Linked DNA regions of Homo sapiens. The protein of the gene in region 2 binds, or shares a complex with, the protein of the main gene of each other region. Each region holds a gene or a part of one and is shown on either strand. Other genes may lie near its edges. The genes, in order: CNOT6L, CNOT10, CNOT11 and CNOT2.

Region 1 (6,847 bases), on a different chromosome or scaffold from region 2:
CACCACACCCACCTATTTTCCTATTGCATTATTTCTAATCTTAAAAACTGCAATAACTGACAAACGTGAAAAATCCTCAGAAATGAGATATCGAAAGCAGGTTACTCTCTGTAGCAAACTTTGATCCACTATAAAATTTCTTTTTTTTTTTTTTTTTTTTTTGAGACAGAGTCTCACTCTGTCACCCAGGCTGGAGTGCAGTGGCACAATCTTGGCACACTGCAAGCTCTGCCTCCCGGGTTCATGCAATTCTCCTGCCTCAGCCTCCCGTAAACTGCTTCTTAACAATGGCTAAAGTGCTACTCATTTGTTGTCGTTTCTGGGGTGTCTTTTGAAGCGGAATCTTATGAGGAACTATTTTTTTTTTTTGAGACAGAGTTTCCCTCTTGTTGCCCAGGCTGGAGTGCAATGGCTAGATCTCGGCTCACTGCAAACTCTGCCTCCCAGGTTCAAGTGATTCTCCTGCCTCAGGCTCCTGAGTAGCTAGGATTACAGGCGTGTGCCACCACACCCAACTGATTTTGTATTTTTAGCAGAGATGGGGTTTCACCATGTTGGTCAGGCTGGTCTCAAACTCCCGACCTCAGGTGATCCACCACCCGCCTGGGCCTCTCAAAGTGCTGGGATTACAGGCCTGAGCCACTGCGCCTGGCCTGTTTGTTTTTTAATCTCACTGAAGACAATTTCTTGGCATTTGTATAGTGCCAACTATCTGAAAACTATTATTTCTCCAATGTCATTCTAATTGCAAATGAGAAAAACAGCAATCTATTTTTTGGATAATATAGTTAACATATAAAAGTATTGCTTTCCTTTTGTTTTTAGTGAGTCAATCAATTTGATATGGTATAAAGAGGACATCTTTGAGAGTAAATTCTAAACTTAACCTGCATTAAAATAAATGATCCTATGACAACATCCACTGTCCACTATTAACTCTGAAAGTTACAATTACCCCTCCCCACCATGGATTGTGATGCATTTACTACTTAAAATTTAGAGGCCAACAAAGAACATCCCATATATAAAGTTGACCTTCAGGACCACCAAAGTCCACCATTTATTAGTGCTTCTTTAACATCCACAATGGCCCTGTCATTTTTCCCCACCTGTCACTACTGCTAGGCAGCCTGTGAGAGTGGGCAGATGTCAAATGGCTCACGTGTAAATGCCAGTGCTGTCAGCCCATCCTCCTAGACATTGTTGTGACTATTAATTTTGTGTCACCTCTCATACTTTCATTTCTGGTTTGTTCTGTGAGAATTTCCTGTTTATGTGTCAGCTTCCCCTACAATGATAGTGAGTTACTTAAGAAAAGGGACTATATATGCTTGGCTGTGTGTCTCCAATGCTAAACATAGCATCTGGAACATAATATGCCCTCCATATGTGTTTATTGTATATGAATGAAAATTCATTGAATACTCACAGAAAATTCATATAAATTTATTGTTATTTAAAGATGCTTAAATCTGTGAGGCTATCACATTATCTGATTTACATTTTTTCAGGTATTTATTTTCCTCTTTCCTTCTATAATTGGTGGTATTTCTCCCTGGGAGAGTGTTTGTGTGCTACGGAGAAATACTGTGGCAAGATGCCATTGAGGCAGGTCCACTATTTGGACTCCTGAAGTGACTTGCTTGGCTTTGCTGCTTACAAAGCCAAAGATAATTATTCATTTTATGTCAGCCTAGACTCTTAGATAGTTGGGAAAGAGTGAGACTTCTTCCAGGCTTAAGGCCATTTTGACATGTTTCACAGAAGATGGTGTGGGGCTGGTGTTGCTAGGGAGGGAAATGGAAAATTAACATAGGTAGAAAAGAAAATAGTCTGTCGTCTTGTGAACTGAGGGGCTTTTTTACTCACTCATTCACCCATCCTGGTGCCAAGATGAAAGTGGTGCAATAGTTCTGCAATTATGGACTCTTGTAACAGCTGTTCAGTTTTAGCTAAATGATGATTTGCATTTTCACCGCACCTTTTCCCCCAAGAGATGAAGGCATTTTACATTCAGTAATAAGGCCTAAGATGAATTGCAACCAACGCAACGTGCTTAGTGTGCTAAACACTCCTGTGGGGGAAAAAATACTGAACATTGCTAATATACCCTTGACCAACACTGGTAAATACACGAGCCCGGGCATGCATTGAGAAAGAGATTAAAATTGTGCAAAACTGCAACAGCAGTACTCTGCCTCCACAGCCGGTGTAATTTGCTTTTTGGACTGCTGGCCCAAAAAAGCTGAAGCTGGCCCACAAAAACAAAAACAAACCCCAGAAACTTAAAGTATCACAGCCAGGTTCACCAAGTAAACACTACTATTTCTAGTTTGCATTTGGATGTTTTCATTCTGTAGATGGCATGGATAAGCTACAAACAACAAACTAAAGTCTACAACGAGAAGGGAGAATTAGAAAATAGGACCGGGTTATCGCTGAGCGTCACAGGTTCTTTTATTTACCTTTGACGATACAACTTACAGATGCTATATGTTTTTAAAAAAAATCCACCGAATATGTCAGGAAACATTTCCTTCGGTCACTTCACCTCCCCTGGCGTCTCAGCCACCTAGACCTACGCTCTGCTTCGCTGTCAGGTCGCCTCGGGCGAGGAGGGTGCAGTAAACAGCGCCCACACAAGAACCCGGGGTGAGGCGGTTTCCCGTCTCTTCGCCAAGGCTCTGTGGATGTGGGTTTCTGAAACTCTACCACTCTTCTCAGCCCCGCTCCTCGCTCAGGCCAGGAAAAAAGAGTGAGAAAACAGCCAGAGCAAAACAGAAAACCATTAAGAAGCCCGGGCCTCCGCGCGCTCACCGCGACAAAACGCGGCGCACGGGGGGCGGGGCCAAGGCGCTGCGTAGGAGCTCCGCCCCGTCACCGCCCCGCCTCCTTCCCCTCACCCCAACCCTCCGCGCCGGGGAGTGACTGACTCCCGCCAGCCCCTCCACGTCAATCAACCCTCCTCGTTCTCGCACTCTCTGCACCTTGTTATTAATCTCAATACCGATATCGCCCGGACGCCTCTCCCCCGGCCCTCGGGGGTGTGAACGTGTGTGAGCGGGAGCGAAGGCACCGAAAGCTGGCGTCTCTGTTCAACCTCGGCCCCAGCAGCACCCGGCGCAGCGGCAACCCCCGCAGCGGCGGCAGCCCCAGCACCAGGAGGCCAAGGCCAAGGCCAGGCTCTGCGTGGCTCTCGGAGCAGTAGCCGCGGCTCCGGCCCTGCGGGGGCGCAGCTTCCTTCGGCTGGGGCCTTCGCGCCGGCGGCCGCGGCCGCGGGGCCTCTCTTGCGCGCCTGGGGTCACTGTCCTCGAAGCCCGGCGGCGCGGCCCTCGTCCCCCTTCCCGACCCCCGGTCTGTCTCCTCGCTCCCTTCAGCCGCCTTCCGCGCCGCCGCCTCTGCCGTTCGTCAGGCGGCCCGGCCCGGCCCGCCCGCCCCGCATCCCCTCCGGCCGGTGCCTCTCCCCTCCGGCGGGCTGCCTGCATGTCTTTGCTGCCCTCAGCCCCGCCGCCACCGCCGCCGCCGCCTCCCCCGCCGCCGCAGCACCAGCACCAGCCGCCCCGTCGCCGCCGCCGCCGCCGCCGCCCGGACCCCGGCGCGCTGAATGCAGGTGAGGAGGGGGCGCGGGCCCCCCGAGACCCCGGGCCCGGGTTCCCTGCGCGCCCGCCCGCGAGCCCCGGTTACGGGCCCTGTGTGCCGCCGCGGCTTCCCCTCGGGGCGGGCGGGAGCGAGGCCCGCCGTGGGTGTTTGTGTTTGCGTCTGCGTCTGCGGCCGCGGCTCTGGAGGGGAAGCATCTGTGGGGGCCTGGTGCGCGCGCGCGCGCGTGTTTGTGTGTGTGTTTCCCCTGCCGCGGGGAAATGGCTGCTGTTGCTTCTGGGCCAGAGGAAGAGAATGAGGTAGAGTGTTCTTTTGCCTCCGAGTAGGACCGAGAGTGTTGGGAAGAGGAGCGCGTCCCCGGGGAAATGAGGTGGGAGAGGGACAAATGTGCGTGTGGGTGTGCGAGTTGGGACTTTGGCGGGCGGGGAGGCGGCCCGAGGACCCACGGCGAGTGGGTGTGTGTCGGGTGACTGGAGGGGGCGGCGGGGCTGACCCGCGTCTCTTCAGAGGCGGGCGAAGGTTCCGGGGTGTGTGTGTGTGTGTGTGTGTGTGTCGGGGGTGGCCCGGGGCCGGGACCCCAGAGTGGCGTGTCCCTCCCGCTTTGTGGCTGCGGCTCCCGAGCCTCGCAGGTGAGAGCTGCTCCTAGGGGGCCGGCCGGGGAGGGCTGAGTGAGTGCGGCACACGCGCGGCAGCGGGGCTGGGAGAGCTGCTGGTCGGTGCCGCGCCGCTGATCCCGGGGCCGCCGTTCCCCGGCCGCGGCAGGAAGCGCGCCGGCCTGCAGCGCGGCCTAACTGCCTGGGCGCCCGCCCACCTCCCCGGACGCCTCCCGGGACGGCGAGCCCGCGCGAGCCCACGGCGCTGCCTCGGGCCTGGGCAGGTGAGGGTCGGAGGCGGGACTCGCCGATTGCCGTCGCCGTGGCCGCCTCCGCGTCTCCTGAGAGGCGAAGGCTTATTTTGGCGTTCCAACTGCAAGCCTTCGCCCGGCCGGCTGTGGGACCCGAGGGAGGAAAGTGAATCAGAACAGTCAGTCTTGGGAATACGCGGTGTCGTGTTCCCTTCTTTTCATCCTTCCCCTAAGGCTGTGTGGAGGGACTGAGTAAATATTTTGGATTTTTGTTGCAAATACTTTGCCGTTGGTAAGATTTTTTTTTTTTTAATTAGACAAACATTTTCTTGGAAGGGCTGAGGAAGAAAGGGAAACTGGCTTTCCTGGCCTGTGGGATTGGATGGATTTTGTGCATTTGAAATTGTTTTATCCTGCCTCCTAGGGGGAGAGGCGTGTACGCGCCGCCGAGCTGAGGAGCTGGGTGAGGAAGAGGAAGTTACTGGAGCTGTCATCCTGCTTAACTCGGTCGGCTATTGAGCTTAGACTGTTTAGGTGGATTGTGTTCAGGGAGTTTAGCTGAGCCGTTTGTACACATTGGAAGCACAGTGTTACATTTTACCGTATTGCCTCTAGTTATCTTGTCAATCAAGATAGGCTCAACAAACATGTTTTCCTCAGTCTCCAAAAACTAGATCAAGCAACCTCTGTTGTCTACTCAGTATGTGCTGCTGGAAAGCTATTTTGAGAATAGCCTAAGCAAAACCCAGTTGTAAAGATAAACCTGCTGCCAATAGGTCTACAGTACATTTCAGAACCAAATACAAATGGCATTTGGATAATTATTTGCTAATGTGCTTTTCTACTCCAACCTCATTACATTTGTATGTAGTTAGATCATTTAGCTAGAACCGTGCTGTGGATAAAAGCATAATACAGTTTCGATCCTTGTAGGCCGTACTCTGTGTCATGGCCAGAGATTGCTCTTTGCACCTGGTCTCACAAAGAAATAGTGTATGCTGTTCACGGGGAAGTGGAGGGAAGAGAAGGAGGGGCGAAGAGCTGTTCTCTATTACCACTACTGGAAAAACAATTTAACATACGTAGTTAGTGGGAAAAGGACTTGTTTTACAGACTTCAGTTAGCCTCCCAGCTGTGTGATTTTTCCTTAGCTGTTTGACCTTAGGTAACATATCTATAAGCCACAGTTTTATCAGTCACAGAGAGCTAATACCTTTATAGTAAGGTCGTTTTGAGAATAGAATGAGAAAACATATGTTTGGCATGTAGTAGATGCTTAGTTAAATTTTAGTTCTGCCTCCTGCAGCCCTGACTATGGGCATTGAAGAACCTTTGCAAACACAAATATGATTAATTATTTAGAGCAATATTAAGTAACTATAACGTAAAAAAGACAATGGAATCTTTCAGAGCCCTTCAGTATACAAAAGGTATATATATAAACTTTAATGTATATAAGAAGTTTTTTTCTAATAATAAAAATAGTCATTAAAATAGCCTAGTTATTTATAAAAATAGTCATACTTAATTTTTTTTTCATATTTTCAAATAGACCATCTCTCAGTTTCATTATTCTTTATGATTTTCGTTTTGTAGCCCTGGAAAAAAATTTTCAACCTCTATATAGCACATGTATGTTTCAATACAGTTAAACATTAAAAAGGATCAAGGAACCAAAATTTAGATAGATCCCCAAAGTTTAAATGCTACGAAAAATGCTAGCTCATGTTGACTGATTTGGTAAATAAAACTTCTTAGAATATTTCTCTGAATATAAGGTAAAATCCTCTGTCCACTTAATTTTCAATAACTTTCCATTTTTAGTATTTTCTCTGGAGTAGGAAATGTGTTCATTAAATTTTAACTGCTGTGTGGAAAAAATAATGTCATGGAGAGGTATGGAATTTAAGGTAAAGATAACAGAAAAGTTAACATAAAGATTGTTTTCTTTTTGTTTTGGGAAAAGACAGGACAGAGAATGTGGGAGTTTGATTGGTTTAAGTTTGTCATGGCCCTATTTACAAATGCCGGGTTTCCCAGTAGGGCTTACGTAATTTATTTGTATCAATAATGATAAGCTTTAAAAAATATTATTTTCTAAAATTCAAACTAAAATTTCAACACATTCAGTATAGCTTTTATGCATATTTTTATATAAAAATTTCTGTGAAGGTAAGAGTCACAGGATGGGGAGGGGGAAGCTCTCATCATTGAGGGGCTTGAATTTTTATAAATAACTAGGGGCAACTATTAGAATGCAAATTGTGATTTTCTTAAAGTGTGTGTTGTGGGAGTGTGTATTTACATTGAACAGAATCTTCTGCCATGTGGTTATATTTAAAGGAATAATTCTTACCTTAAAACTATAAATGATACTTTTTAATACCTTAGAAACAAAGAAATAGA
Region 2 (7,033 bases):
AGCTAATTTTGTGTATTTTTAGTAGAGACAGGGTTTCACCATGTTAGCCAGGATGGTCTCGATCTCCTGACCTCATGATCTGCCCGCCTCGGCCTCCCAAAGTGTTGGGATTACATGCATGAGCCACCGCACCTGGCCTATTTCTGTCCCTTCTAATCTCTCTCATTCATGTCTCTTTTCTACTTCATGCTATCTCATATTTAGAGCCAACAGCCTTTCTTCTAGTGAGATACATCTTGGAGATCGTATATGCCCTAGAGGCATGACCTGAATTTATGTTTGAATAAATAATTCTCAGCAAGAACTGGCTTACTGTAAAACTTGTTAATATGTGTTCAAAATACTATGGTGTATAACTCAAAGCAACTGCATTCTAACTCATGTTCTCAGTCATTTAGCTGCCTAGGAGAAAGGTTAATTAATAGTGATTAATTATAATTAAGTGTCTGAAGTTATGATTCTGTATTTTCTCAGATAAAAGGAGATAAGCTTAACTTGTAAGGAGTATTTGTAGGATACCAAAAACTCCCTAACTATATCTATCAATTTATCTATTTATCTATCTATCTATCTAGATAGATATAGGTATTTATTATTATTATTATTTGAGACAGGGTTTCACTCTGTCGCCCAGATTGGAGTGCAGTGGTGTGTCTCGGCTCACTGCAACCTCCCACCTCCCAGGCTCAAGCGATTCTCCTGCTTCAGCCTCCTAAGTACCTGGATTACAGGCATGCGCCACCACGCCTGGCTAATTTTTGTATTTTCAGTAAAGATGGGGTTTTACCATGTTGGCTAGGCTGGTTTCGAACTCCTGACCTCAAATGATCCACCCGTGTCGGCCTCCCAAAGTGCTGGGATTATAGGCGTGAGCCACTGTGCCCGGCCTATTATTATTTTTTTAGACAAGGTCTTATTCTGGCATGATCTCAGTTCACTGCAGCCTCAACCTCCAGGGCTCAAGTGATCCTCCAATCTCAGCCTTCCCAGTAGCTGGAACTACAGGCGCACACCACCACACCCAGCTAATTTTTGTATTTTTTGTAGAGATGGGGTTTTGCCATGTTGCCCAGGCTGGTCTTGAACTCCTGAACTCTGGTGATCAGCCCACCTCAGCCTCCCAAAGTGCTGGGATTATAGGCATGTGCCACTGCGCCCAGCTCCTAACTATATTTTTATGTAGAAGAATTTGATGGGTCGTCGCTCTGGCTCACGCCTATAATCCCAGCACTTTAAGAGGCCGAGGCAGGCAGATCACCTGAGGTCAGAAGTTCAAGACCAGCTTGGCCAACGTGGTGAACCCGGTCTCTACTAAAAATACAAAAATTAACCAGGCATGTTGGTGGGTGCCTGTAATCCCAGCTACTTGAGAGGCTGAGACAGGAGAATCTCTTGAACCTTGAACCCGGGAGGCGGAGGTTGCAGTGAGCTGAGATAGTGCCACTGCACTCCAGCCTGGGTGACAGAGCGAGACTCCATCTCAAAAAAGAAAAAAAAAAAAGAATTTGATGGGTCACCTATCTTCAAGGAAGGCAAATTTCTGACTCTGAAGAGAAAAAACAGACATTAAAAATCTCAGCCTTGCCGGGTGCGGTGGCTCACGCCTGTAATCCAAGCACTTTGGGAGGCCGAGGTGGGCAGATCATGAGGTCAGGAGATCGAGACCATCGTGGCCAACACGGTGAAACCCTGTCTCTACTAAAAATACACAAAATTAGGTGGGCGTGGTGGCGGGCGCCTGTAGTCCTAGCTACTCAGGAGGCTGAGGCAGGAGAATGGCATGAACCCGGGAGGCGGAACTTGCAGTGAGCCGAGATCGCGCCACTGCACTCCAGCCTGGGCTACAGAGCAAGACTCTGTCTCAAAAAAAAAAAAAAAAAAAAAAAAAATCTCAGCCTTGGCTGAGCATGGTGGCTTATGCTTGTCATCCCAGCTACTAGGGAGGGTAAGATGGGAGGACTGCTTGAGCCCATGAGTTTGAGAGCAGCCTGGGCAACAAAGCGAGACCACATCTCTAAAAAAAATTTAAAAAATTAGTTGGGCTCAGTGGCGTGCACCTGTAGTCCCAGCTACCTGGAAGGCTGAGGTGGGAAGGCTGCTTGAGCCTAGGAGTTTGGAGGCTGCAGTGAGCTCTGATGGTACCACTGCACTCCAGCCTGGGCAACACAGTGAGACCCTGTCTCCCAACCAAAAAATCTCAGGCTCTTTCAAGGGATAAAGTCCTAAACAGAGAGAATTACTCACCATTCTGCAGTTCAAGGTAGACTGCCAGCAAGATGGCCTCAGGGGGCACCTCTTTAGGATGGATCATTGAAGCCGCCTTTGCTCAAAACAGAAAGATGCCCGTGAAAAAACAAAAGCTTAAGATACACACTCCAAGTACATCTGCCAACCAACAAGGTAACAAACTTATTCAAGCTCATTCCCACGTGACTTCCTAGGGACTACCTGTTGTTCTGCTCTGATGAGCCTCAGTTCCTTTTGTCTTAAAACCTAACAATTAAGCTAGACATGTAATACTCTGGGTTTTGAGATGGGTGACTGGACACCCCGATACTACAGTCAACCATCCAATTCTGCTGGTGGCTTTCACAACAGACACATACAGTTGCAATTACATCAAAATCTGCATGCCCATTTGTTTTCCTAAGTAACACTTCAGTATTACAAACTGTAAGTTGTCAATGTCAGGAATAATAATTCAAACTTATAGTAATACAGAAAAAACGTACCACGTAGCATGTTTGAGGTCTCCATTCTTAAGGACTGAAACACACTTCAATTTAGTCCAATAAAATAATTTACTAGTTTAGGCAACATGCTGCCCTTAGATCTGAGTAAGAGCCATAGCATCGGCCAGCAGTTTCTCTCTGATCCAGTCCTGAAGAAGGAAGCCTGGACTGCTCTGGACAGAAGTGCTGAAATTACAGGTTTATTTCCTCAGTCTGGGCCTCTTTGAGCTACAGCCAAAATATTCCTCACCTTATTATCAACTTGTACTTCCCCATCTAGTTTTAGTTGCTCATTGCTTCCAGACAGCTCTGCCTCTTCTCTTAATCTAATCAGATAATAGACTTCTACAAATACTTATTGAACAGAGGTGGGTATGGAGATAAGACAGGGACTTCCCCTGATAACAAACAAGCATGCAAATAACTAACAATAATCCAAACACAGTTACGTAAATGCCAGGGAGAAAGGCAGTGAATGTGCTGTGAATATGGAGAGAAAGGAAGAAGTTTCTTTCAAACAGAGCTTTGGGGTAAGGGAGGCCTGCTTTAGTCCTTGCAGGGTAGATATCTCACAGGTAGAAAATGGGGAGAAATGGTACTGAAGGTAGCAGCTTGAACGTGGGAGATGTTGGGGAAGACCAGAAACGTGTACTAGGTTGGTTTCTGGCAGCATTAGGAGAAATCTCAGACTAGCGGGGCATGTTGCCCAGAGCATGTGCTTCTAAGAAGTTCCTCATGAATGAGGTGGGGAGGCTTTTATTCCTCTCGCCACAACACTGAGGTATAACAACTCTTTTCAGAAAATGAGATTTTATATATCTAAGCCTAGCTTTCTAGGCAAGCTGTATAGGCAAGATCGTCTTTATACCATTTTGTGGATTTTTTTTTTTTGAGACGGAGTTTTGCTCTTGTTGCCCAGGCTGGAGTGCAATTGCACGATCTAGGCTCACTGCAACCTCCGCCTCCTGGGTTCAAGCGATTCTTCTGCCTCAGCCTCCCAAGTAGCTGGGATTACAGGCTCCTGCCACCACGCCCAGCTAATTTCTTGTATTTTTAGTATAGACGGGGTTTCATCATGTTGTCCAGGCTAGTCTTGAACTCCTCACCTCAGATGATCCACCCGCCTTGGCCTCCCAAAGTGCTGGGATTACAGATGTGAGCCACTGTGCCCGGCCCATTTTGTGGATAGTAAAATCTCTGTTTTCCATCCAAGTGGCTAGTAACACATTTTATTTACTGTTTTTTTCAATGACCACAGTCTGAAGCTTTTTTTAAAATACAAGAATTCAAGGCAACATCTTTATGATACTTAATGGCATTTTGCTTACTGGCTGTTCAGAATGGTTAGTGGTGGGCAGGCAACCTTGGAAACATCTACTCGGAGCCCTTTCCAACTCTTCACATCACTGTTCTTCCCTCCCAGGCAGGGTGGGCCTCCCAATTAACAAAGGTCCAGCCATTGGATTAACCTAAAAACCAAGGGACCAAAACAAAACCCCCTTCAGACCCCAAACCAGGCCTGACCCCATCTGTCTCTCCCAGCGTGGCAGCAGCCATGGCCACCTGCTGTACGAGAACCTCAGCTGGACTGTACACACTGTAACTTTAGATCAAAAGCTCTGTTTGCTGCAGTGACTGAGGTCTGGGGGCACTTTGAGAGGGGCTGCTCAACACCCTAGCCTTGTTACTGAGAAGAGTGAAACATTTTAACTCTTACTGGTTTAACTCATACACTCAATGCCTAGATAATATCAAACATGTTACCCTGGACAGCCTGTCACTTAACTTTTCTGATCTGGGATCAGAAATGCTGACCAGATGCCACTAAGTTGACTAAATAGAATTTGTAGTTATTTTTCACATGGTAAAGCATCATCACTTCTAGGCACAACAAGGCTGCTCACATAAGCAGGAACCTATGTGAAAGCCACATAGGCTTTTTTTTTTTTTTTTTTGAGACAGAGTTTCGCTCTTGTTGCCCAGGCTGTAGTGCAATGGCGCGATCTCGGCTCACCACAACCTCCACCTCCTGCGTTCAAGCAATTATCCTGCCTCAGCCTCCCGAGTATCTGGGGTTACAGGCATGTGCTACCACGCCCAGCTACTTTTTGCATTTTTAGTAGAGATAGGATTTCTCCATGTTGGTAAGGCTGGTCTCGAACTCCTGACCTCAGGTGATCTGCCTGCCTCGGCCTCCCAAAGTGTTGGGATTACAGGTGTGAGCCACTGCGCCCGGCTGAAAGCCACCCTATCTCCTGAGAAGAGGTTTAATATCAACTTTAGTTGCTGTGGCAAGCATGTGGGGATGTGGGCCTTCTCATCTGCTGCTGGAGAATGTACCATTTGATACAAACTTTCTATATCAGAAGTCTTAAAATCCTGCATATCCTCTGACCATGCAATTCCCTTTTTAGGAAGGTGTCTCCTAACTGCAAAGGTCTACAAGCAAGGGCAAGATTGTAGTATGTCTGCTTATGTGCAGTCTTATTCCCATGGCTTAGCTCAGAAGTAAGTGCTCAACAGATATCTGCTGGATGAATGTCCTTTTGAGGAACTATTTCTAATTTTGTGAGATTCCTCTGGGGCTGCCAATGGTGGTACCCAGTCCCCTACTACAGGTATGGCTCAATGCCCATGATTGGTCCAGGGATTGGCAGGTGACCTACTAAAGAGATCCAATCAAAATCTTCCTTGAAGCTTCATGATGCACCATTTCAGTGGTAGAATTCAGAGGTTTATTTTAGTTATATATTGCCAGTAGCTTTCTTTAGTGTGTATGGAGTTTCTCTAGTATTGGCTTTCTGAAAGGTGGATTTATAATTCACTTTTTTTTTTTTTTTTTGAGACAGAGTCCCGCTCTGTTGCCCGGGCTGGAGTGCAGTGGCGCGATCTTGGCTCACTGCAAGCTCCACCTCCCGGGTTCATGCCATTCTCCTGCCTCAGCCGCCCGAGTAGCTGGGACTACAGGCACATGCCACCACGCCTGGCTAATTTTTTTGTATTTTTAGTAGAGACAGGGTTTCACCGTGTTAGCCAGGATGGTCTTGATCTCCTGACCTCATGATCCGCCCACCTCGGCCTCCCAAAGTGCTGGGATTACAGGCATGAGCCACCGTGCCTGGCCTATAATTCACATTTTGAAAAAAGATTTACACAATTCAAAATTTAAAAGCACCTGGGCACGGTGGCTCACACCTGTAATCCCAGCACTTTGGGAGGCTGAGGCGGGTGGATCACCTGAGGCCAGGAGTTCGAGACCAGCCTCAACATGGAGAAACCCCGTCTCTATTAAAAATACAAAATTAGCCGGGCGTGGTGGTACATGCCTGTAATCCCAGCTACTTGGGAGGCTGACGCAGGAGAAGTGTTTGAACCCGGGAGGCGGAGGTTGCAGTGAGCCGAGATTGCGCCATTGCACTCCAGTCTGGGCAACAAGAGCGAAACTCCGTCTCAAAAAAAAAAAAAAAAAAATTAAAAGCATAACAGTATACAGTGAAAAGTCTCCCATTCTACTGCTCCAGCCATGTAGTATTCGTCCTGCCACCCCAACAACTAATGTTTGCAGTTTCTTGGTGTGTCCTTTCAGAGATCTTTTATGCATGTATACAGGGTTATACAGAAACTGTTTCACACCTTGCTGTTTTCATTTAGTATGTCTTGGACATCTTTCCATTTTAGTACCTAGAGTTTATAGCTGCATTGTCTTCAACTGTACAGATGCACTATTATTTATATAAGTGATCTTTTAGACAGTTTTCCATCTTTTGGAATTTTAATAATTAAAACTGTCAACTTACTTCTTTTGTCTTTTTTTTTTGGGGGGACAGGGTCTCACTCCAGTTGCCCAGGCTGGAGTGCAGTGGCATGATCTTGGCTGACTACAGCCTCAACCTCCCAGGCTCAGGTAATCCTCCTACCTCTGTCTCCTAAGTATCTGGGACTACAGGAATGCACCACCATGCCTGGCTAATTTTTGGTATTTTTAGTAGAGACAGGGTCTCATTATGTTGCCCAGGCTGGTCTCAAACCCCTGGACTCAAGTGATCTGCCTGTCTCAGCCTCCCAGAGTGTGGGATTACAGATGTGAGCCACTGTGCCCGGCCCCAAGTTGCTTTTTATTCTGCTGATTTGAAATTTAAACATCTTTTTTTTTTTTTGAGACGGAGTCTCGCTCTGTTGCCCAGGCTGGAGTACAGTGGCACAATCTTGGCTCACTGCAACCTCCGCCTCCCGGATTCAAGCGATTCTCCTGCTTCAGCCTCCCGAGTAGCTGGGACTACAGGTGCGTGCCACCAACCTGG
Region 3 (7,668 bases), on a different chromosome or scaffold from region 2:
GATTGCAGGCATGAGCTACCACACCCGGCCTTACACCCAGTTTTTTAATAATACCTGGCAGAGCTACTCCTGCCCTCCCTCCTGCATCCCTAATCAATATCCAGCAAAAAATATCACTCCTGAGAATTTCTCCAGCTCCACAGGTGGTCGTTCCTTCCTCTTAACTACCCAGCATTACACAATCGCAGCCCTGCCTCTGTTCAGAGTCATCTGAAAAGCATTCTGAAGACATACCCACTAAATGTCTTACCCTAAACATACAATATCAGCAGCTCTGGGAGTGGAGTGTAGGCACTGATATTTTCTCTTCTATGTTATCTACACACCATCCCTACCTACTTTAATAATGGTATAATAGTGGGTAACACTCACAGGTACTTTTTTTTTTTTTGAGACGGAGTCCCGCTCTTTAGCCCAGGCCGGATTGCAGTGGCACAATCTTGGCTCACTGCAAGCTCCGCCTCCCAGGTTCACGCCATTCTCCTGCCTCAGCCTCCCAAGTAGCTGGGACTACAGGCGCCCGCCACCGCGCCCGGCTAATTTTTTGTATTTTTAGTAGAGACGGGGTTTCACCGTGTTAGCCAAGATGGTCTCGATCTCCTGACCTTGTGATCCGCCCGCCTCGGCCTCCCAAAGTGCTGGGATTACAGGCGTGAGCCACCGCGCCCAGCCCACTCACAGGTACTTTTATTCTTTGTAACAACTCTACCAGCTGGGAATTGTTACTATTTGCATTTTACAGATGAGGAATCTGAGGCACAAAATGGTTAAATATAATCCATCCATGGATTCCTTCTCTGGTGACTGCCATCCCACCTATGGCAAATCTGTGTGTATAATGCGGTCTACGGACTAGGTGTGGGTTTAGATTCACTGTACATGAGAATGACATTATATAAGTCACGGTTTCTTTGCCTCACTTGTTCTTCAGAATTCAAAGGGCCCTCTGATCTAAATCCCAGTGTCCCAATCCTCTAATACAAGCACCCTAGGGTGGTGGTTGTCTGTGTGTGTGTGTGTGTTTAGAAGCTGTCACCCTAACTCACTGCAGCCTCAAACTCCTAGGCTCAAGTGATCCTCCTGCCTCAAACTCCTGAGCAGCTGGGGCTACAGGTGTTAGCCACCCCATGCCCAGCAAATTTTTTATTGCTTTGTAAAGACAGGATCTTACTATGTTGCCCAGGATGGTTTCAAACTCCTGGCCTCAAGCAATTCCCACCCCCCAACCTCCACCACTTCGGCCTCCAAAAGTGCTGGGATTATAGGCGTGAGCCACCTAGCCAGGCCTAGGTGGTGAGTTTTGACCACAAACCTGTGTTACATTCACTTTCTGGGCAGTCACAAGCTTCTTAGAAGCAGGTTAAGTACCTGTACCCTAAAGGCATCTCAGGCCAATACAAAGGGTTGCCCTTCTTAGATAAGGGCACTACAGGACACCTATCAGAAGATCCTGATGGGATGCCCGGCAGGAACACTAACTAGAAACGCGGCCCTCCTGTACCATAAAAACAAACTCCTGGTGTTACTTCAAAATCTACTGCCTAGCCTTGACTCACTGTATAGCAGGCCCTACCTATACTGGTTAAGGAATGTAAGATCAAGCTGTTTCCTATCTCTGTGTGCTTCCTCCACTACACTGGTTCCTAAATCCTTCAGGTCCCGTTGTCAACATGCCATTTTTCTTGTTTTCTGACTGCAAGTCTTCTCGCAAAGCAAATCCACATAAAGCATCACCTGCTTGAGCTTAAAAACAAAAAAAAATGCAGCCTCGCATCTAACCTACTAGTTTGATCTCACCAATGCCACACAATAGTAAATACATTTTACATAATGTATACCACGTATGCACTTTACATAATGTCCAGTAAGTCATGTGTTTCCAAACGCGAGATCATCAATTTGAGACTTTCTATCCTCTGCCCCCATCCCTAACAGGCTAAGAAAGGCGGCTGCAAAGTCTTTAAGGTGTTTCATGTGTATTTCCGCCCACCAACTTCTTCAGCTTCTTAATACTGACTTCCACGTACTCCTTTGAGACTAAAAACCGGGGACAGATCCAGTCTTATCATTGGTTTTAACTTCACACACCACAGACGGGTTTTCGAAGAACGAACCGTATTTGAGACACTAAACATGTCAAGACCTACACTGAGCTGTATGATGTGATGGGGTGTATAGAGAAATCATTTTCGGTGTCACGAACTTGCAATTAAGCTACCACCTCTCCATTCTTTAGAGTTAAGGCGGGGAGGAGTGAGGGGCGTGGGAACGCAGAGAGAGGCGGAAAAAGAGGATGATCATTTCACAGGGATAGTTAATTTCCCTTTCAGGTGAGTTCCCAGCAGCGCAGGTGGAAAGCTGCGGAATCTAACGCTATCCACACGGCACAGCTGGCTTCAGGAGGTACCTGAGAGCGGAGGGCGGTCGGGTTCCTGGCCGCCGCGGGCGGGCGGCGCGGGGTTGAGCAGGTGCGCGAAGCTGGCGGCGAAGGGGTTGGCGGCCAGCGGCTCGGTGCGGTACATCTCCCAGAGCAGGTAGAGCGCCGTGAGGCGCTGCGCCGCGCTAGGCAGCAGGTCGGGCTGCTGGAGCAGCATGACGAGCACCGAGCCCAGGCGGAAGTGGTCGGCCTTGCTGAAGTAGTGGTGGAAGGCGGTGGACAGGCCCTCGAAGGTGCTGCCGCCGCCCGCCTCCTCCGATATGATGCTCAGCAGGCTCGAGAGCTCCTTCGGGGTCAAGCTCATCCTGCCCGCGGGGCCCCCCGGGCCTCCGCTCCCGGACCCGGGGCCGCTTGCTCCGCCTCTGCCGCCGCCGGAGCCCCCGAAGCCGCTCCTGGACGCCGACCCTGCCGCTTCCCGGGACCCTCTTTGCTCCGCGGCGGTGAGAAGCCGGCCAGACGCCGCGCTCGCCCCTCCGCCGGGCATCAACCTCGCTCCCCTTCCCCTCTTCCCGGCCCGAGGGGCCCTGGCGCCGGCTCGCTCCGTCCCCGCGGCCGTAAAGCGCGCTGTTACACGACAGCGTCGCAAACAAAACACGTCGGGGAAACCAGACCGCCGCGGAGAGGGACAGCGCCCAGCGAAAGCGAGGCTGATGGAGCGAAGCCAGGAAGAGGATGCGGAGACGCGGGGTAGGCGGGGCGAATTGGCAGGAAGCGGGGGCGGGGCCCGGGAAGGGAGGGGAGGGGCGGGGCGAGGTCGGGCTGGTGGCGTTCAGGGTTAGGTCTGCCGAGGTCCCGCGGCAGGAGAGCCCGGGGACTGCATGCGTCTGCGCAGCTGCGAGGTTAAGCCGCCCTTTGGCGGTCCCCAGGACGGTTCCTGGTGCCAGACGGTCCCAGTAAGTGCTGTCTACGTTATTATTTGGAAGAATGCACCTCAGATGTTAACTATTTTCTTAATATAACATCCGTAAGTATTCGTCGTAAAAAGTATTGTAAATGCAGGCCGGGCGTGGTGGCGCGTGCCTGTAATCCCAGCACTTTGAGAGTCCTAGGCGGGAGGGTCGCTTGAGCCCGGGAGTCCCAGGCTGCAGTGAGCTGTGATCACCACTGCATTGCAGCCCGGGCGCTCTGTCTCAGAAACATTTTTTTTAATTTAGTAAATGCAAATATACCACACATTTCACATAACCACGGTTAATTTCTAGTCTTACACTCATTGCAGAAATGGAATCATACTGCACTATGAGCTTTTTTGTACATGGTTTTTTCTCTTAACATGATTTCGAGAACATGTCTCCAGTTAATATTCATTTACAAAATTGTTTGCTGTGCCACGTTTTACTTAGATTGCCCTAGGGCACTTATCCTGGGCACTTAGCTGTGCATTAGAAACCCACGGGGAGACGTTACAAATACCTAGTTCCACCCCCAGAGATGCTGATTGAGATATTAATAAACCCCACCTCTTCAGGTGAGTCTGAGGTGTAGTCTGGGCTGAGAACCACCAGGTGGCATTTCCCAGACTTGCCCGGTCCCTAAACCTACAGAAACGTACGCGTATTTCGCCAGTGATTACCACCAGCGATTCTAATTATCTAGTTAAGAGCCACCTCAATTCTTTTTTAAAACATATTTTTATTTTATTTTATGTGTTTTTGGGGAGAAAGATATTTTATGTAAAAAAAATTTTTTTCATCTTTTTAAAACTTGTATTTCAGTAGTTTTGGGGGTACAGGTGGTTTTTGGTTACATGGATAAGTTTTTAGTGGTGATTTCTGAGACTTTGGTGCACCCGTCACCAGAGCAGTGTACGCTGTACCTGTCAGGCCTCTGAGCCCAAGCCTGCACATATACATCCACATGGCCTGAAGTAACTGAAGAATCACAAAAGAAGTGCAAATGGCTGGTTCCTGCCTTAACTGATGACATTACCTTGTGAAATCCCTTCTCCTGGCTCAGAAGCTCCCCCGCTGAGCACCTTATGACCCCCGCCCCGGCCTGCCAGAGAACAACCCCCTTTGACTGTAATTTTCCACTACCCACCCAAATCCTATAAGATGGCCCCACCCCTCTCTCACTTCCCTGACTCTTTTCAGACTCAGCCCGCCTGCACCCAGGTGATTAAAAAGCTTTATTGCTCACACAGAGCCTGTTTGGTGGTCTCCACACGGACGCGCGTGACAGTACCCAAAATATAGTCTTTTATCCCTCAGCCCTGTCCCACGTATACCCCCTCCCACCCCAGAGTCCTCAAAGTCCATTATATCATTCTTATGTCTTTGCATCCTCATAACTTAGCTCCCACTTAGAAGTGTAATATTTGGTTTGCTACCTCAATTCTTATGAAAAATTTAAGGAAGAGAAATTGCTGGGTCAACAGGTGTGATATCTACTGAATTTTAAAGGCTTCTTCAATTTACTGCTAAATTGCACTTCAGAAAGATCCTGCCAATTAACGTTCCTAACAGCAGCAGATATAATGTGGTAACTTGGGGAACTGATTCAAATTAGCTCAAAAGTACTCTCATAAATTTTTTATTATAGGGCCTGGGCAAGGTGGCTTATGCCTGTAATCCCAGCACTTTAGGAGACCGAGGCAGGTGGATCACTTGAGGCCAGGAGTTTGAGACCAGCCTGGCCGTGGTGAAACCCCGAATCTACTAAAAATATAAAAATTGGCCGAGCATGGCGGCTCATGCCTGTAATCCCAGCTACTTGGGAGGATGAGGCAGAAGAATGGCTTGAACCTGGGAGGTGGAGGTTGCAGTGAGCCGAGATCTCACCACTGCACTCCAGCCTGGGCGACAGAGTGAGACTGTCTCAAAAAAAAATTTTTGTTATTATAATAAACTGTATTTTGTGCAAGCCATTTTACATTGGGTGGTCTATGGGTCTATTTGTTATTGTAATTTTCCTGCAGTTCTAATACTATTTAATAGTAGTAATTATACCAATTGCCAGTTATTAATGTAGTAATACTAATGCTGTGTGGGTTTTTTCCAAGATGTTTCAAAAATATTTGAACATTTTATTTTATCTTAAAAAAAAAATAAAAAACATGGGAAGCCGAGGCGGGTGGATCATCGAGGTCGGGAGTTCAAGACCAGCCTAACCAACATGGAGAAAACCCGTCTGTACTAAAAATACAAAAAAATTAGCCAGGCGTGGTGGTGGGCACCTGTAATCACAGGTAATTGGGAGGCTGAGACAGGAGAATCATTTAAACCCTGGAGGCAGAGGTTGCAGTGAGCCGAGATCGTGCTGCTGCACTCCAGCCTGGGTGATAGAGACTCTGTCTCAAAAAGAAAACCGGTTAGGACTAGGTGTGCCATCTGCATAGAGTGTGAATCTCTGGCAGCCCCCACCCCAGTCTTTTATTATGCAGGCAGGTAGCTATTCTTGTGACTGATCTCTTTCCTACTGTGTACATGCTAACAAAAAAGGGAAGGTGGAGCCCCCATGGTGGACACGCATGGCCCCAGGTTGCTGTGTCTGTGTGGCTGCTGGCATCACCCTGTGCAAGCTTCCAGCTTCCTTATTTATGTCTGCAGCTCGATCTTTCAGGCTGCTCTTTGTTAGAAAATAAGTGATTTCTTGGGCTGCTTTTTGCTTCTTTTTTCTTTTCCCTTCATGACCATTACCACGTAGGATATAAGCCTCTGGCTTGCCTCCTATATAGCCCCTCATTTCCTTCCCCATATTTGGCAACCAGACCAGCATCCAGGACAACATAAACTATGCCACTGGTTGTTAGAAGGCTTGGGACATTTGTCTCTTTGCCAGCCTTAGCTTAACCCAGGAGACAAAGATTATTATCTCTCCTGCATAGGATCTGCAATCAGAACTATTGAACTTCTCCATCTGGACCACCACTCACACCTATAGGAAAAGGGTAATATAATAGATCATTGCCTAAATAACAGGGAATCCTGTTCATATGATGGAAAATGGGGACAAAAGGCTTTGGTACCTAAAACATTATTCCTACCTTGGCATAGAAACTCACTGACACCTACCTTAACGCTATTATGCTTATTTGCTGTTTTTAGAGAATTTATTAGGACAATTTCAAGCTCAAAATATGCTAACTGGTGCCTTGTTAGCCACACAGAATTGTACCTAAAAACTTTCTAGACCAACTCACTATAAAATTAAACTTTCTTTAGGTGTCCACGTCGCCCCTAAGTCATGCCAGAAGCAGCCCTGATTAACATAACCCCTACCCCAATAATCCCCAGTAAAAACTTATGTTTTCTTTATCTTTTCTTATAACTTTATATTTTATAAGTAAAAAGACAGGAATGTCAGGCCTCTGAGCCAAAGCTCATCCGTTGTAACCCCTGTGACCTGCACGTCCAGATGGCCTGCAGGAGCCAAGAAGTCTGGAGCAGCCAAAAAACCACAAAAGAAGTGAAACAGCCAGTTCCTGCCTTAACTAATTAATCCACCTTATGGCATTCTACCATTATGACTTGCTCCTGCCCTGCCCCAACTAATCAATTGACCTCGTGACATTCTTCTTCTGGACAATGAGTTTTATGATCTCCCCACCATGCACCTTGTGACCCCCTCCTCTGCTGACGATAGATAACCACCTTTAACTGTAACTTTCCACTGCCTACCCAAGCCCTATAAAGCTGCCCTTTCCTATCTCCCTTCGCTGACTCTCTTTTTGGACTCATCCCACTTGCACCCAAGTGAATAAACAGCCTTGTTGCTCACACAAAGCCTGTTTAGGTGGTTTATATGGACACACGTGACACTAAGCAATTCCAGAAGTGTGAGACCCCTAGGGTTAAATGTGAATGGGAGAAAACTTAAAGTTTCTTCCAAAAGTTGTATTTATTTTTCTGGTTTTCCTGAATACAATGGAAACTGCAACCTGACTTTTCACAGGCCCCAGGTCATCCCCTTGCATGAGTTCAATCACTGGATCTTGCTTCTCAAAATTAAATCACTGGATCTGGAGCAAAAAATATAGGCCCCTTAGCCTTTTTCCTTAAGTTATAACTGAAGCAAAGCTACTGCTATTAATTGTAATGATCATTCTTTTTTTCCCCCCAACTGCTCTCCAAGCATCTACTGGTCCTGCCTTTCCACACTGCAGTCTACATTCTCGTTGCCCCACTTCTTCACTAACCCTCCCCATCACGTCCTTTTCTAAAGATCCAGACCGGGAGTGGTGGCTCACGCCTGTAATCCCAGCACTTCGGGAGGCCGAGGCGGGTGGGTCA
Region 4 (7,033 bases), on a different chromosome or scaffold from region 2:
CACCCAGCTTCAGCATTAAGTTTGAAATTCTTTTTAGGTATATAGATTATGAAGCCATGGTTAAGATACGGTTTTAATCTAAATTAAATTCACTTTAATAATGTAAAAATAAATTTCTTGATGGAGAAATAGTTCCATTTAAAGATAGCCATCATCACTTAAAGATGTTTTCAGCATAGTCAAGATCCACTATAATACAAAAGTGATTAAAATACTTTGAACATACAGCTCCACTGCAGCTAAAAGTTGTAATACGTCTCCTCCATTCATGTAATAGAGATAGAAGAGAAGGTCTTCACCATATCGGCCAAGTTTTATTGCAGCCAGCTGAAAAAGAAAAATAACTTATTCTGAAATATAAAACAAATCTGCAAATCCTAATATATAGTTGCTACTACTAAAGAAAAAATGGAGAGATAAACAGAAACTCCCCACTTTGTAGTAGATAACTGTTATTACATGATTACACAGATAGGTAGTTAAGATTCTAAAAGGGAATTTCCTCATTTAAATGACTGAAGTCATTTAAACAATTATTTCTGATACATCTAATTGATATGCTGACTGGAAGAAAAGCTCAATAAAGACTTCCAAGCAAGATCCACTAAAAGGATTTAATACCCAATGGGGAAAAGAACCTAACAATAGCATTGTGCTCAGAGATCTAGGACTTGTATTCAAGTCCTGGTTTTATTACTCATTAATATGACTGTGTCCTAGTTATTTAAAATCTCTTAGCTTTACTTGTCAAATGTGGACAATGACACCTATGAGGGTTACTAAGAAAGTAAATAAAATGAGTGAAGGTATATGAAAGCACCTTGTAGAGTGCCAAATATATAGACGGCTTATAAAAAATGTTAAACTGAATCTATATCTGACAGTGAATGATTCACAAGTCAGTTGTATGCTTTCAGCAAATCACAGATGATGAATACAAAAATCATAAAGAAATGGCTTTTCAGTTTGTTTAAATAGATGTCTGAAAGATGATTGCTTTACATTTCTCTCCCCAAGGTAGAAACATAACTGCTTACCAAACTGTAAAACATAGGTTCAATAGTCTCAAATTTTCACATTTAAATAAACCTTAAAAGTGTCCCAAAACAACATTTTTATCTCGTTATTTGATCCTATATCGAAATACTTATTTGGTTATTACACATTCTCTGAATGTAATTTTTCTCTCCATTCATGTTATCCCTATTCAGGCAGCAGCCCCAATGTGACAAATTCTCCTAAATTAGTATTTCTCAAATTGGTAATAAGAAAAGGTTCTGGAACACTTTGGTAATTGGAGCGAAAGAGCTCTACAGTGGTGGTGGGAGCAAATCACACAATCCGCAAATAGAAAATAGGAGACCTCTCCATCTTGTATTTCTTGCCTTTTATCTACTCAAGTATTAGAAGACATTGAGAAAGGTATCCCTTTACTTGCCTGTCCACATCAACATCCACTTGACCACAGAACTGTAAGGCACACTCAGAATGCTGTTGTATATATACACATACACATAGATATTTATACACAAATATATAACAAAAATATATTTTTTCACTAAATTGTAGTTTCCCAAGGCTAAAATTTAGGTACCATTGTGAATATTTTTTGGTAATAGAAACAAACTCTCAGTTCTTCTAAAGCAAAAAGTGCCACCATTTTCTTTCTTAGATTGAAAAAAGAGAGATTAAGCTGTAATCTGTTGTTAATAACTACTTTAGAATTAGAATTTTAGGTGATTTAAAAAAATGGAAATGAAAAAATACAGAGAAAAGTCAAAGGTCATAAATAGTTTTTAAAGATACAGACCATCTCATTAAAAACACTGTATCTGTAATACTTGTAACGAAAATCTTTTTACTGGTAAGGTCATAAAATAAGATTATCAGAAGGATATTTATCAAATGTTCCAATCTAGTTTATTCTCATCAACTGCGGTTATGGTTGTAACCTGTTGTTAAATGTAAGAATTTTTATTTTTTACCAGTCCTAACATTTACCATTTAACAAGTTAACATGGACATATGAAAGCATATCCCTGAGACCATTACTAATTATTTCAAAAATAGTATGCTGCCTGAACTGAAAAACATGTGAAAAATAGATAAATTCATGCTGACTGAGTAGAATAATAAACTACACTCACCTTATCCCTAATGTGAATGTTCGTTAAGTACTCAGATGGAACATGGAAGTCTGGATAATAAAATGAAAAAAGCCTTATTAACTGATTCTCAATTGTAAATTTCTTTTTAAAAGGTCTAAACACAAATAGATTCTCCTACCTATGTCTTGAGGTCGACAAGGTGAAGATGCCCAGGGTGACGCAAATTTGGGGTAGAGATTTCTGAATAAGGAGGAAAAGAAAACATTTTGAAATCCAGAAAAAGAGATTTCTAATTTTATTTCAGGAAAAACAAAGACTCCAACTGTAAAATGACCATCTTTACTTCTAATTCCCTTACTTGGGTTTACTGACTTATACAGAAGCAAATGAAGACTGTGTGTGTTTGTGTGTGTGTCTGTAAAATATGATAGGACTCCTTCCCTCAGTATTCTTGCAATACAGTATAAATAACACAACATATCACAATATACAAAACATGATTAAAAATTTTCTACTTTTACTTGATTTCAACTCAAGATGCTTTAAATTCTTCAATACCATGCTCCCAATATAAATTAAATTTTAAATAAATTTTAAATAAATTTCCCATTTATTTGTGTGGCAAGAAGAAAACTGAGTAACTATTTGCAAAAGTTTAAATTCATCAAATATTTACTGAGTGCCTATTATATGCCTGGCACTGTTCTAGGAGCTTACGACACATCAGTGAGCAAAACAAGATCACTGACAACATGAAACTTACTTTCTGGTTGAGGATGGTGGATTGGAGGGGGACAGACAAAATCAATTAACAGAATAAATAAATAAACAATGGCCCATGTTAGAGGGGAACTGGGAGGGGAGACTGGATGCATAATTATTAAATAGGGTGGTCAGTTAGGTTTCATTAAGGTGGTCAGATCTGAAGATTTGAAGGCTATAAGGGACATAGTCATATTAATTATCTGGCAGAAGACTCTTCTAGTCTGAGGGAACTCCTAGAGCAACTAAGGCAGGGACATGACTGACATGCCTGAGATATAACAAGGTGGCCAGTGAAGCTGGAATACAGTGAACAAAGGGAAAAGCTGTTGAGGTGGGGTTAGGGGACAAACAATAATCATGTAAGACCTTGCAGGCCTGTGAAGATTTGGGGTTTCTGGTCAAGCGCGGTGGCTCACACCTATAATTCCAATACTCTGGAAGGCCAAGGTGGGCAGACCACTTGAAAAGTGAGGAGTTAAGAGACCAGCCTGGCCAACATGGTGAAATCCCGTCTCTACTAAAAATACAAAAATTAGCTGGGCATGGTGGCACATGCCTGCAATCCCAGCTACTCAGGAGAATCGCTTGGACCTGGGAGGTGGAGGTTGTAATGACCCGAGATTGCATCACTGCACTCCAGCCTGGGCGACAAGAGCAATACTCTGTCTCAAAAAAAAAAAAAAAAAAAAAAAGATTTGGGGTTTTTAATCATAATGAAACCACAAACATTTACTGGGTGTTGAGCAGAGGAGTAATGTATTAAAAAAGGATTGTCTTGGCTGTTATATGAAGAGATTGTACGGGAAGGGGTATAAGGACAATCAGGGACCCCCAGTGACTGGCTAATGGAGTATTCAGGCAAGAGAGAATGATTCAAACAAGGGTGGTAGCAGTTAAAAGTAGTGAGCTTTGGTTAGATTCTGTATATATTTTGGGAAAAGCCTGATTATGGGGTATAAAAGAAAGAGGAGTTAAGAATAATGCCAAGTTTCTGGAAGTACAGAGTTACCACTAACTGAGATTGGAAAGGCTGTAGACAGAATAAGTTGGGGGGTGATCATTCAAGAAATATTTAATTGGCAATTGAATGTAGAAATCTCAAACTCAGAAGTGTGGAATGGAAACATATGTTTGGGATTCCTCAATATATATGGTATTTAAAACAATAAGACTAGAAAAAGATCATCAAGGATGTAAATGCAGAGAAGAGGAATGACACTGAGGTCAAGAAGAAAAGGAGGAGGTACCAGCAAAGGAAACTGAAAAAGACCAACCAGTGAAGATGAGGTAAAAATGGTGCTCTCAAATTCAAGTACAAGAATGTGTATCAAGGAGCAAGAGTTCCTCCAAGTGACCACTGAATTTAATAACATGAAGGTCATTTGGTGACCTTGATAAAAGCAGCTTTAGTGAAGTGGCAGGGACAAAATCCTGACTGAAATGGGCTTACCAGAGAATGGGAGAAGACCAAGTCGGAGAAATGGAGATGACTCTTTGAAAAGTTTCGCTTCAAAGGGAAATAAAGAAATGGGAAAGTAACTTACGGAGGAGGTTGGATCAAAGGAAGATTTTCTTCTAAGATGAGAGAAGTAACAATGTATTTCTATGTTGATGAAAATGACCCAACAAAGTGTGAAAATGTGTTGTAAGTAGAACGCATGGGTCAATTATGGTAATAGGGTGGAAAACAAGAATAACATAGGTGTAGGTGGCTGTAGGTAGTCAGATTTGTTGGCTAGACTGTGCTAAATGTGCTCTTCTAATTGCTTCCATCTTTCTTAGTACAGTAAAAGTGAAAAGCAAGATCATCATTTGATAGTAAGAATAAGGAGAAAAGGTATTAGGGGCATGCAGAAGTGTACGATAGTTGCATAAGAGAGCAAAAGAGTAAATGGACTAAGCATGCAAGGTATAATTATCACTGGTAGAATTAAGAGCCTACTTTTGAGGCTCCTGGGCATGAAAATAAAGGAAGACCAGGCAGTGATATCATGTGTTTTTCTCTAGCAGAGCTCAGTAGCACAGGTCAGGAATGAAATAGGCAGAAACAATCAGTACTGTAGCTTTGGCCATGCAAGTATAACAACATGAGAAAATGGCAAGTAGTCATGGGATATGTAAATGAACAATTATGACTGACCACAGAATTTCATGGGTAAGAAGGGAGTTGATCACAGGGGAAAAGAGACGGGGATCTGGAAGAACAGTTAAAATACCGAAGAATCAATAGATTGAAGGTCCCAATGGAGTGAAATGATTACAGGAATCACAGTACTAGAAGAAGAGAAATAGAAAATAGAAAGTGGAAGTCGGAAAGCATGCGAGCTCAGATTTTAAAATTGAGAGACTGCAGTTACGAACAATGACTAGGTCAAAGGGATAACTAAAGGAGTGGCTGAAGTATACTACAGGACAAAAATTCCTGGAGGAAAGAAATTCAAGGAGCTGAGATTTCAGGATTCTGGAAGGTGTGTGTGTGTGTGTGTGTGTATATATATATATATACACACACACATATATACATGCACATGCACACACACACACACACACACACACACACACACACATAAAATGCCAAATTATAAAAGGAATACTGCAGAGTGACAGTGATCTAAGAGCTAACATGAATGGGAATGACCCAGAGAATCAGCAGGTTAACAATGAGTAGCAGTAGGTGAGATAATTTGATGACATGATATTAAAAACTGGAAGTCTGAAGAGGTATTATATACAGACATGGAAAAACAGAAAAAACTTACTCAGGAGAGTTCAGATTGAGGCCTAATGTTGTTAAGTCACTTCCTAATGCAAGATGTACCATTCCTGGGTCTGTCTCTGCTGCCCTGATAAATGTTAACAGGCCAATCATTCCAAATTGGTCCGTCACCATCCCTTGAGGAATGTTAGTAACCCGACCTGGGTAGGAAAAACACAGTTGCTTTTATTTTCAAGAAAAAGTTAAAAAATAGAAAAAAAAGCATTCTATAATATCTTTGACATAGATTTCTAGAGTCCCACCATCAGGTAACACCTGGATCCCTTTTTTCTGCTGGTTATTATTTTGTGTTGTTGAACTTTTATCTCCAGGGAATTTGGGTCCATCTGTACTTGAAGTTGTCTTGCCAGATGTATTCAAATTCTAGCATGAAAAAAATTAAATGTGACATTAAAATTTGTTAAGTATACAAATTCAAGTTCACATATTAATACCTTGCTATTTATTCTTTATTACATTTAAATTGGTAGTTAAATTATTACCTGTTTTTCAAGTTCTATAGAAAATTGTTTCCATCATTGTTCCATGGTATACAAATAAATCCTATATCATCCACATTTGAGTATTTAAAGAAAAAGAAATCAAGGGAAAATATCTTATTTATCTCAGATCTTCAGTCACAGAAAAAAAAAAATCTATCTCTTTCTCAGGTCTTTATGCTTTGGGATACACTTGAAGTTACACTCCTCAATGCTTTCATGTAAAAGAGAAACTAAATATAGTATATTACCTAAAATCACCAAAGCTACCTTGAAGATAAGTTAGACATACAAGCTTTAAAACTTTGTACTTATTTTAATTCTTACCGATCTTCTTTATCAATTATTTTAATAATATATAAACTCCCATCACACACAGAGAAAAGCTATTTTCAGTGAAATGTGGAAGAAATAAACATATTTGTTAAGTCAGAAAGAAGAAGCTGAGTTGGTTGAATCAACACAGGTATAAAAATGTGTATAAATTCTTCAAGGAGAAAACTTACTCAAGAAAAACACAGCTCCTTAGAAGGCTATATTATCAAACTTCATGGGATCCAGCTGACAGGGACTACAATAAAAGTCTAAATTAACTCTGAGAAGTTCAACAGAAATTTGCAAACCTATATGAAATAGGAAAAAAATAGGCTATCTTCTAAGTTATAAAGCTTTTCCACATTCTTCAGAAGTTAGGTTATTACAGATATCAAGATAAAACAGTTTTGTAATAGTATTTAGTAAGTAATTGTTAATATAAGAGAAATCTGAAGGGAAAAACTACATCACTCACATACACACTTCTCAGTTACTTACAGATTTACTGTCATCATTACTTGATGTTGGATCTTTATAGCTGGAGCCTGGTAATGCTGGAAAATCTTCATTGTGTATTGAGAAGTCCTGGG

Evidence for each region.
Region 1: CNOT10 (region 2) and CNOT6L share a complex: the UniProt entries of both Homo sapiens proteins name them as parts of the CCR4-NOT complex.
Region 3: CNOT10 (region 2) and CNOT11 share a complex: the UniProt entries of both Homo sapiens proteins name them as parts of the CCR4-NOT complex.
Region 4: CNOT10 (region 2) and CNOT2 share a complex: the UniProt entries of both Homo sapiens proteins name them as parts of the CCR4-NOT complex.

What each region holds. Positions count from the first base shown.
Region 1 is NC_000004.12:77,816,353-77,823,199, reverse strand, and holds the start of CNOT6L (CCR4-NOT transcription complex subunit 6-like), read left to right. Parts: upstream 1-3,831; 5' UTR 3,832-3,857; coding exon of another isoform or gene 3,858-3,891; coding exon 3,892-3,896; exon of another isoform or gene 3,897-3,962; coding exon of another isoform or gene 3,963-3,967; intron 3,968-4,176; exon of another isoform or gene 4,177-4,226; intron 4,227-4,865; coding exon of another isoform or gene 4,866-4,948; exon of another isoform or gene 4,949-6,847. UniProt on the Homo sapiens protein: Has 3'-5' poly(A) exoribonuclease activity for synthetic poly(A) RNA substrate.
Region 2 is NC_000003.12:32,765,174-32,772,206, reverse strand, and holds part of CNOT10 (CCR4-NOT transcription complex subunit 10), read right to left. Parts: exon of another isoform or gene 7,030-7,033; intron 4,202-7,029; exon of another isoform or gene 4,061-4,201; intron 2,321-4,060; coding exon 2,245-2,320; intron 1-2,244. UniProt on the Homo sapiens protein: Component of the CCR4-NOT complex which is one of the major cellular mRNA deadenylases and is linked to various cellular processes including bulk mRNA degradation, miRNA-mediated repression, translational repression during translational initiation and general transcription regulation.
Region 3 is NC_000002.12:101,248,218-101,255,885, reverse strand, and holds the start of CNOT11 (CCR4-NOT transcription complex subunit 11), read right to left. Parts: upstream 3,001-7,668; 5' UTR 2,922-3,000; coding exon 2,408-2,921; intron 1-2,407. UniProt on the Homo sapiens protein: Component of the CCR4-NOT complex which is one of the major cellular mRNA deadenylases and is linked to various cellular processes including bulk mRNA degradation, miRNA-mediated repression, translational repression during translational initiation and general transcription regulation.
Region 4 is NC_000012.12:70,337,422-70,344,454, reverse strand, and holds part of CNOT2 (CCR4-NOT transcription complex subunit 2), read right to left. Parts: coding exon 6,942-7,033; intron 6,700-6,941; coding exon of another isoform or gene 6,670-6,699; exon of another isoform or gene 6,036-6,669; intron 6,013-6,035; coding exon 5,892-6,012; intron 5,790-5,891; coding exon 5,633-5,789; intron 2,349-5,632; coding exon 2,287-2,348; intron 2,198-2,286; coding exon 2,148-2,197; intron 345-2,147; coding exon of another isoform or gene 328-344; coding exon 227-327; intron 1-226. UniProt on the Homo sapiens protein: Component of the CCR4-NOT complex which is one of the major cellular mRNA deadenylases and is linked to various cellular processes including bulk mRNA degradation, miRNA-mediated repression, translational repression during translational initiation and general transcription regulation.